Homo sapiens: one gene and its partner. The protein of the gene in region 2 binds, or shares a complex with, the protein of the main gene of each other region. Each region holds a gene or a part of one and is shown on either strand. Other genes may lie near its edges. The genes, in order: GNAI1 and APLNR. A codon is read from its position in the direction of its gene.

Evidence for each region.
Region 1: the proteins of APLNR (region 2) and GNAI1 are in contact, whole or in part, in a cryo-EM structure (PDB 8XZF), measured with the Homo sapiens proteins. Residues at the interface, in NP_005152.1 of Homo sapiens: Arg62 (codon at 2,371), Ser63 (codon at 2,368), Ala64 (codon at 2,365), Asp126 (codon at 2,179), Arg127 (codon at 2,176), Ala130 (codon at 2,167), Ile131 (codon at 2,164), Val132 (codon at 2,161), Pro134 (codon at 2,155), Val135 (codon at 2,152), Ala136 (codon at 2,149), Ala138 (codon at 2,143), Arg139 (codon at 2,140), Arg141 (codon at 2,134), Leu142 (codon at 2,131), Ile224 (codon at 1,885), Ile228 (codon at 1,873), His231 (codon at 1,864), Phe232 (codon at 1,861), Arg236 (codon at 1,849), Glu238 (codon at 1,843), Arg245 (codon at 1,822), Leu246 (codon at 1,819), Ile249 (codon at 1,810), Ile250 (codon at 1,807), Phe312 (codon at 1,621), Asp313 (codon at 1,618), Pro314 (codon at 1,615), Arg315 (codon at 1,612); in NP_002060.4 of Homo sapiens: Glu28, Arg32, Asp193, Leu194, Glu308, Lys314, Asp315, Asp341, Ile343, Ile344, Lys345, Asn347, Leu348, Lys349, Asp350, Cys351, Gly352, Leu353, Phe354.

Annotation. Positions count from the first base shown.
Region 1 is NC_000007.14:80,211,202-80,214,830, forward strand, and holds part of GNAI1 (guanine nucleotide-binding protein G(i) subunit alpha-1), read left to right. Parts: intron 1-1,514; coding exon 1,515-1,668; intron 1,669-3,629. UniProt on the Homo sapiens protein: Guanine nucleotide-binding proteins (G proteins) function as transducers downstream of G protein-coupled receptors (GPCRs) in numerous signaling cascades.
Region 2 is NC_000011.10:57,234,451-57,238,587, forward strand, and holds the start of APLNR (apelin receptor), read right to left. Parts: upstream 2,801-4,137; 5' UTR 2,555-2,800; coding exon 1,412-2,554; 3' UTR 1-1,411. UniProt on the Homo sapiens protein: G protein-coupled receptor for peptide hormones apelin (APLN) and apelin receptor early endogenous ligand (APELA/ELA), that plays a role in the regulation of normal cardiovascular function and fluid homeostasis.

The DNA of each region.
Region 1 (3,629 bases), on a different chromosome or scaffold from region 2:
TTCCTCTAACTTTTCTATTTGATAAAAGAGAGATATACTAGAGAAGCACAGGTGGATCTTGAGGAAAAGGAAAACATGGAGAGTCAATCTCACCTCAAGCCTGTAAGCTTAACTATGCATTTCTGTATCTAATATCAACATAGCACATGGAAATATAGTTACATAGTAGTCCAAGATTCCCTTTTCTTAATTTGTTACTTCTGTTAGTTTAGTAAATCTTTTTTTTTTTTTTTTTGAGACGGAGTCTCGCCCTGTTGCCAGACTGGAGTGCAGTGGCACCATCTCTGCTCACTGCAACCTCCACCTCCCAGGTTCAAGCCAGTTCTCCTGCCTCAGCCTCCCAAGTAGCTGGGATTACAGGCACGTGCCACCACACCCAGCTGATTTTTGTATTTTTAGTAGAAATGGGGTTTCACCATGTTGGCCAGGTTGGTCAGAAACTCCTGACCTCAGATGAGCCACCCATCTCGGCCTCCCAAAGTGCTGGGATTACAGGCCTGAGCCACCGCACCCAGCCGGTAAATCTTTAATATATGTTATGCTTTGTTGCTGCCCTGTAATTTTCAGATAGGTTTCAGTGTACCATTAATATGGGGGAAATGTTTTTAAATAGAAATGTAAAACTTTGTCATTTTAAGTTAACTTTATTACAAAGTGGGGGAAAAAGTAGAAATGTCGGTTTTGTTCAGTTGACCCTTGAACAACGGGTTTAAGCTGCATGGGTCCACATATATGAAAATTTTTTTCAACCAAGCACATTCATGGGATGCAAAACCTGAGTATACAGAAAGCCACTTTTTCCTATGTGTGGGTTCCACAGAACTGCCTGCTGGACTTGAGTGTATGCACATTTTGGTACCCTTGGAGGTCTTTGTACTAATCCCCCTGAGTATACCGAGAGACGATTGTATTTTTAAAATCAAGTATATGAAATTATAGTGTAGTAGGTGCAGTGCAACACCACATGTTCATTTCTTTCATTTCAGCACTATAAAATGTATCAGTGCCCTCTTTGATGAGCACAGATCCTGGAAGGTCAAGAAACAGGAATTGGAAGTGTCCTTCCAGTATTTATATTTATTATAATATTTAGAGTATTGGGCTAATTGGGTCTTAGCTTGTTCAATTTAAGTTATTAATCTTTAAAAACCTCTATTTATCTTCTAATGGAAATTTAGATGAAATGAACTCTATGACAATGTCATTTCTTTTCACATGTTCACACTTCACATCCCTAGATTATAATGTCCTGTAGCAGGATATTCCCTGGCACAGAGCATGACATATAGTGGGCACTTGGCAAGTAAAAGTTGAATGCAAAAAGTGGTGAAAGATGATTAGACACTTCTCTTACCTAAAGTGAAAGTGTGTTCTGAAATGGCAGAAATGTATTTTTGTGATACGTATTTTTCAATCACTAAACTCTGTTTTATTACAACACCTTTTATTTTTTAAAATAGTCCTCAAAAATCCTTGCTGTTAGTGACGATTGGTTTTATTTTTTTCTATTACAGAACCGAATGCATGAAAGCATGAAATTGTTTGACAGCATATGTAACAACAAGTGGTTTACAGATACATCCATTATACTTTTTCTAAACAAGAAGGATCTCTTTGAAGAAAAAATCAAAAAGAGCCCTCTCACTATATGCTATCCAGAATATGCAGGTATTTTCCTTTTCTGGGAATAACTTGTCAAGTTACATATTTCTAAGTGAAACTTCCCCTAAGGCAAGAATTCAGTTGTTAATTTAAATCTCTTGGCTTAGTGATTCTTAGACCTTTAAGGGGTATTATTTATCAAACTGCAGTTGAGCATAAAAATTTCCTTAAGATGTAGATGAAATTACTGAAAATAATGTATTCATTTTATGGAAAAGCAGTTAGATAATTTTTAGTGATGACTCCAAGTTAAAATACTATTTTTTAAATCCAGTTAACAGATTTCATATCAGGTACTGTGTGATGTACAATAAATAAGACATGTCTCTGCCCACCATCTAATCTGAAAGACAGACATACTTAAACAACAGGCAATAGCAGTGCAACCTACTGCTAAAATAAGGAACATGAACATTATAGTAAGGGGAAATGAAGACAGGATCATTGAGGCAGCTAACTCTTCCAGAAGGGCAGGGAAGGTTTCACAAGAAGCCAAAACTTTGGTAATGAGACTGTTAATAGTGCTTTAATTTTACTATGATGGAAAATTCCCTGGAGTGAGGAAAGTAGACCTGAAGTACAGTCCTGACTTTTCCATAATTAGCTCTTTGATCTTGAACAAGGCAGTTAGTTCACCTAGGTCTCAGTATTCCATCTGTGAAGTCAGGAGTTGGGCTAAAACATTAGTTTTAGTTTAATTTAGTTCCTTGGAGCACCTCCTGGGTTGCTGTTGAAGGCGGAAATGGGAGAGGGAACAGAGCTAATTACTGCCCCCTGCACCCACCACCTTATAACTTTTTCATTAAAGCAGAGTAACTCAGCTTTCATCTGGTTTATGTATTGAGTAAAGTTTTACTTTAGTGAAGAGCATTCAGTATGCCTTAAAAAAACAGGGAGTTTGATTACCACTGGTTTATGTAATCTCCAAATCTAGATAGTTTGAAGAGTTTAGTTATTTACCCTCACCCCACTCTTCCTGTTTTTTTTTTTAAAAGTCTCAAGAATTTGTTTTTTTATAAACAGAATTTTCCTCAGTCTTGTGTTGAGTAAATTGTACGATGAGTATTCACTGCCATTTTACAGGAAATGTTAAGACAACCCTGTGATGTCAGTGCTCAGGTATCCCTACCCATACAAATGAGAATACCGGGGCTTCCTGAAGCCAGAGTCCAGTTCCAGACCCAAGTCCATTGTCCTCCTGCTCCTAGACCATGAACGACTAGGCTACATTTAATTAAACATTCAGTGGAACCAAAAGGGGAGGGTTCTTTGGTAAATATAATCATGTTACTTATAGCTCTTTTTGTGTACGGTGAAATTACACTTCAGTTCAAACTAATTTCACACATTTACTTACTTTAAAACTTTGCTTTCTTTTTGAAAGTCAAAGTCCTAAATCACTGTATTCAGCAACATTTTTTTGTGCTTATTAGAAATAAGCTACCCAGAGTCAAGATGGCTTAATTTTTCCCTTATTTGAATATATTTTTCAGTTTATTTTTATCATATTCTATGATGTAGCCATTTTGTACTAATTCATAGTACCAGATTCCCCAAGTGAATCCATAAATATTGTATACCTACGGGGATTTTAGAGCAACTAAGAATATACTTGTTAGCTCTTTCCTTGCCAAGTAGACAGTGTGTTTAGGAATTTTTGCTTGTGTTTTGCTTAAGTTAATAAGAATACCTGACTTCAGAATCTTTGCACAAAAAGAATATTACATAATTCTTTCACATCCCCAGAGTTAAGATTATTGTTTAAGATCTCCATGGCATGCCCAAAGTATTGATTCAGTTGCTTCTTGCTTCAGCCGCAACTCTCAATTTCCTGTGGCTGTGGAAGAACCCTGTGTAGCCCCTAAACAACTCACTTGATTTATCTCCTGTCTGTCTGCTCCTGTGTTACCCTTCTCCTCCTCTTCTTTTTCCTGTATGTTGCCACTTCACCAGTTTCATCTGCAGTC
Region 2 (4,137 bases):
GGCGCCAGCTGCTTTGGGGAGGGATCTCCCTACAGGAAGCCTGGTGCAAACATTAACTTCGCTCCTAAAGCACGGACCAGCCGTTGGAGCCCCCAAATCCAGTAGGGGGTGGACTCATTTTTATTCTACATTTTTCATTGCCTCAGTGTGTCCCTGCCCCCCACCACCCCCTGCCAAGGGTAATGTGTGAACAGCAGAGTTGCAGTGGATTGGGGGGTGGGAGGAGGTTTGTCCAAATGACCCAGGCACACTGCTGTTCATGCCAGGCTCATCCATATAGACATATAAGTACAACACACACAGACAAGAGGCAGGCATCTCCATCCCAAACAACATGATTCTTGGCACCAAGTAGCACCAGTGCCCAAGAAAGAAATCAGTATGATGGGGTAAGATGGGGAGATGAGGAAACCCTTCAGCTCACAGTTATGCAGGAAGTCAGAAACAGGAGGACTCGGGGAGCGAGCCAAGCAGTGTCTGGACTAAATGCAGACACCCCTCCATCCTCTCTCTCTAGTTGCCCTTCCCAACTCCCCACTCACATAATGAAACCAAGGAGTACATCCATTCATCAGCCCTGCTGCCTTCCAATTCTCATAGAAAATAGAGGAAGGATGAAAGGGTCTGCGGACAATTTGGAGAAAGCATATCTAGTCAGTGTCATGGTGCCATGGGGGAACTGCAGGAATCACACTAGCCCCAATGCCCAAAATGACAGGGAAGTGATCCAATTTTAGGGCAAGCTCTGGAGCTCCCAGATCTAAGGGCTGGAGCACTAATTATCTGCTGACACACAGCCCACCCCCGGCCCCAGCCCATTCCCTGCCTCACACTCAGAAAACAGGATAGAAAGCTTAAACAGGGTCAGTCTCTGCAAGCTTTGGGATCCTTAACCCTTAGTAGCCCTTCAGAACAAGAAAGTAGACAGGGGAGAAGGATGGATGGAGGGAGGGGGACGAGCTGTAGGAGGGGATTGGTGCCAGAAGGCAGGGATAAGGAGCGGCAGCTGCAGAGAGTGGTGGGGGAAAAACTACAAGGAAAGAAGGGAGGAAAGACGATTGCAGATCTAAGAAAGCAGCAGAGGGAAACAAGCTTTTACTGCGTCCAGACTCAGGCTTCAACATTTTAGGATCAATATGACTTTCCCCCATTTCATACCAATGGAGAAACTGAGGCTGAGTGAGATTAAATGGCTTGTGCAGGGTCAGGTCTGTAGAGCCCAGTCTCTTTCCCCTAAACCACAAACCTCTGAGAAAGAATAAAGCAGTAGAGGAGGACAGGGCGGGGCAGAATCAGGGGACAGTTAAAGGATGTGCATAGGACAAGGAGTAGCCACACTACCTGATTTTCAGAAAGCAAGGGCAAAGGCCGGGGAGGGCCGAGGGCGCCAGGCTTCTCTCTGCTCCCAGCCCTAGTCAACCACAAGGGTCTCCTGGCTGTAGGGGATGGATTTCTCGTGCATCTGTTCTCCACCCTTGCCCATGTTGGGGCCGGGCCCCTGGCTGTGCCCCGAAGAGTAGCTGGCTGACTTCTCCCCACTGCTGCTGTGGGAGGTGCCTGCGCACCTGCTCTGGCCACAGCAGAGCATGGAGGTGCAGGCCTGGCGGAAGCGGGGGTCGAAAAAGGCATAGAGGAAGGGGTTGAGGCAGCTGTTGACGTAGCTGATGCAGGTGCAGTAGGGGAAGATGTTCATGAGGAAGAGGTCAAAGTCACAGGGCCAGTGCAGCAGGCTGCCCAGCATGTACAGCGTCTTCACCAGGTGGTAGGGCATCCAGCACAGGGCAAAGGTCACCACCAGCACCACGATGATGCTGAGCAGCCGGCGCCGCTTCCGCAGGCCCTCGATGCGTTCCTTGCGGAAGTGGCCAGCGATGGTTTGGGCGATGAAGAAGTAACAGGTCAGCATGATGGTGAAGGGCACCACAAAGCCCACGGTGGTGGACGAGACCCCAAGGCCCACCTCCCAGGCCCACTCTGAGCTCACAGTGGCCACCATGGAGTAGTCCATGTAGCACTGCACCTTAGTGGTGTTCTCCAAGTCCCCGGTGGTGCGTAACACCATGACAGGCATGGCCAGGAGGGCGGCCAGCACCCAAAGAACTGCCGTGGCCACGGCCCCGCTGACCCGCAGCCTCAGCCGAGCATTGGCCACTGGCCTCACGATGGCCAGGTAGCGGTCGAAGCTGAGGCCGGTGAGGCAGAAGACGCTGGCGTACATGTTGACGAAGATGAGGTAGCTGCTGAGCTTGCAGAAGAAGGTCCCAAAGGGCCAGTCATAGTCCCGGTACGTGTAGGTAGCCCACAGGGGCAGCGTCACCACGAAGGTCAGGTCAGCCACCGCCAGGCTAGCAATGAAGATATCAGCTGAGCGCCTCTTCTCCCGGCTGCTCCGAAACACGGTCCAGAGCACCAGACCGTTGCCCGTGGTGCCCAGGAGGAAGACCAACATGTAGATGGCAGGGATGAGGGCCCCCGAGGATTTCCAGTCTGTGTACTCACACTCAGACTGGTTGTCTGCCCCATAGTAGTTGTCAAAATCACCACCTTCCTCCATGCTGGGGAGTGGAGAGAAGACGGGCAGAGGGTCCCAGGGACACCAGCTCCGTGGCTCTGTCACCCACTCTGCAAGCAGCCTGAATTTCTGGCTTGAGCCTCAGAGAGTAAGAAGGGCTGAAGATGCCCAGAGTCCTTCCCAGCACTCAGGAGGAGCTGCCTCTGGGTTCTCCAGACCCTGGAGGAAGCCTGTCTCCTGCAGAATTTCCTCCACCCTCTCTTGCCTTACCCCCGTCTCAGTTAAGACACTTCCTTGCACCCTCCTGCGTCCCTGTCTCCTCCTTGACTCGTCACTCCCTCCTCCCACCTCCAGACCAGCCCCTCTCTTGTGAGTCAAAATCTTTAGTGACAGCCCACTTTTTTTTTCTTTTTGTCACTGAGCAAGTGGACCAAATTGACCCCTACTGTGCTGGGCTGAACATTATCTGTGGTTTTGCAAGTCGGCTTTCCTGGCCCCGCCTCTCCTTTCTGGCTGCCACCCACCTTCACCCCAGCCCCTATCCCTCCACTTTCCTCTGGCCACCACTTCCTGCCTGCCCTTTAGGGCACTCCCTCCTCAGTGCTCTCCGCCCTCCTGTTCTCACCCCCTTCCATCCAATCTAAATGGGACACATTATGCAGATTGCAATCCAGCTTGAGCTGGAGCCAGGGCTGGTAGGGAGCAAGGAGGGTGTAAGATTTCGCAGGATGGGCAGGGCATCTGGCAGGTCCTCCTGGCAGGCAGGTCTGGCCCCCTCGGCTCCCTTCCTGCACCCCCAGCCCCCACCCAGACCAGGTGTCACAGGAGGGTCTTCTCCCACTTTGCCTCTCGCTTCATCTTTCTCTACCCCTTGGCTTTGACCCTCCCTCTGAGAACTTTTGTGGTTTCTAGAGAAATACCCCTACACTAGTGTAGACTGCAGTTTGCAGTTTGCGGAAGGCACAGGATGCTTTAGAAGGTTGAGGGCAGTCACAGGATGGAAGAAACCCAGGACAAAATTATCTCTAAACAAGTCATTAAATCTGTAGGAAACAAAGGCCCAACAAGGTCAATGTTTTGCCCAAGGTAATAAAGTGAATTATGCTACAGTTGATTGTTTGCTTTTCTTCTTCTCCAAACACGAACATAATACAGTACCTGGCATGTCGTAGGTGAATGGCTGTTTTGTTTGTTTGTTTGTTTGTTGAGACAGAGTTTCACTCTTGTTGCCCAGGCTGGTCTAGGCTCACTGCAACTTCTGCCTCCTGGGTTCAAGCGATTCTCCCGCCTCAGCCTCCCTAGTAGCTGGGATTGCAGGCTAATTTTTTTGTATTTTTAGTAGAGATGGGGATTGACCAGGCTAGTCTCAAACTCCTGACCTCAGATGATCCACCCACCTCGGCCTCCCAAAGTGCTGAAATTACAGGCATGAGCCACCACGCCCAGCCAGGTGAATGGCTGTTGAGTGAGTAAGTGGATGGATGATGTAGGAGGTGAGTGAAAAGGGGAATCCATAGATGGAAGAACAAGTGTAAGAATTACTACGTGGTGAGAACATGGATACATTTCAGTTCTCAGGTTTTTACTATCCTCCATGGACCAAGAGGTTTCTGTAAGACCACAGG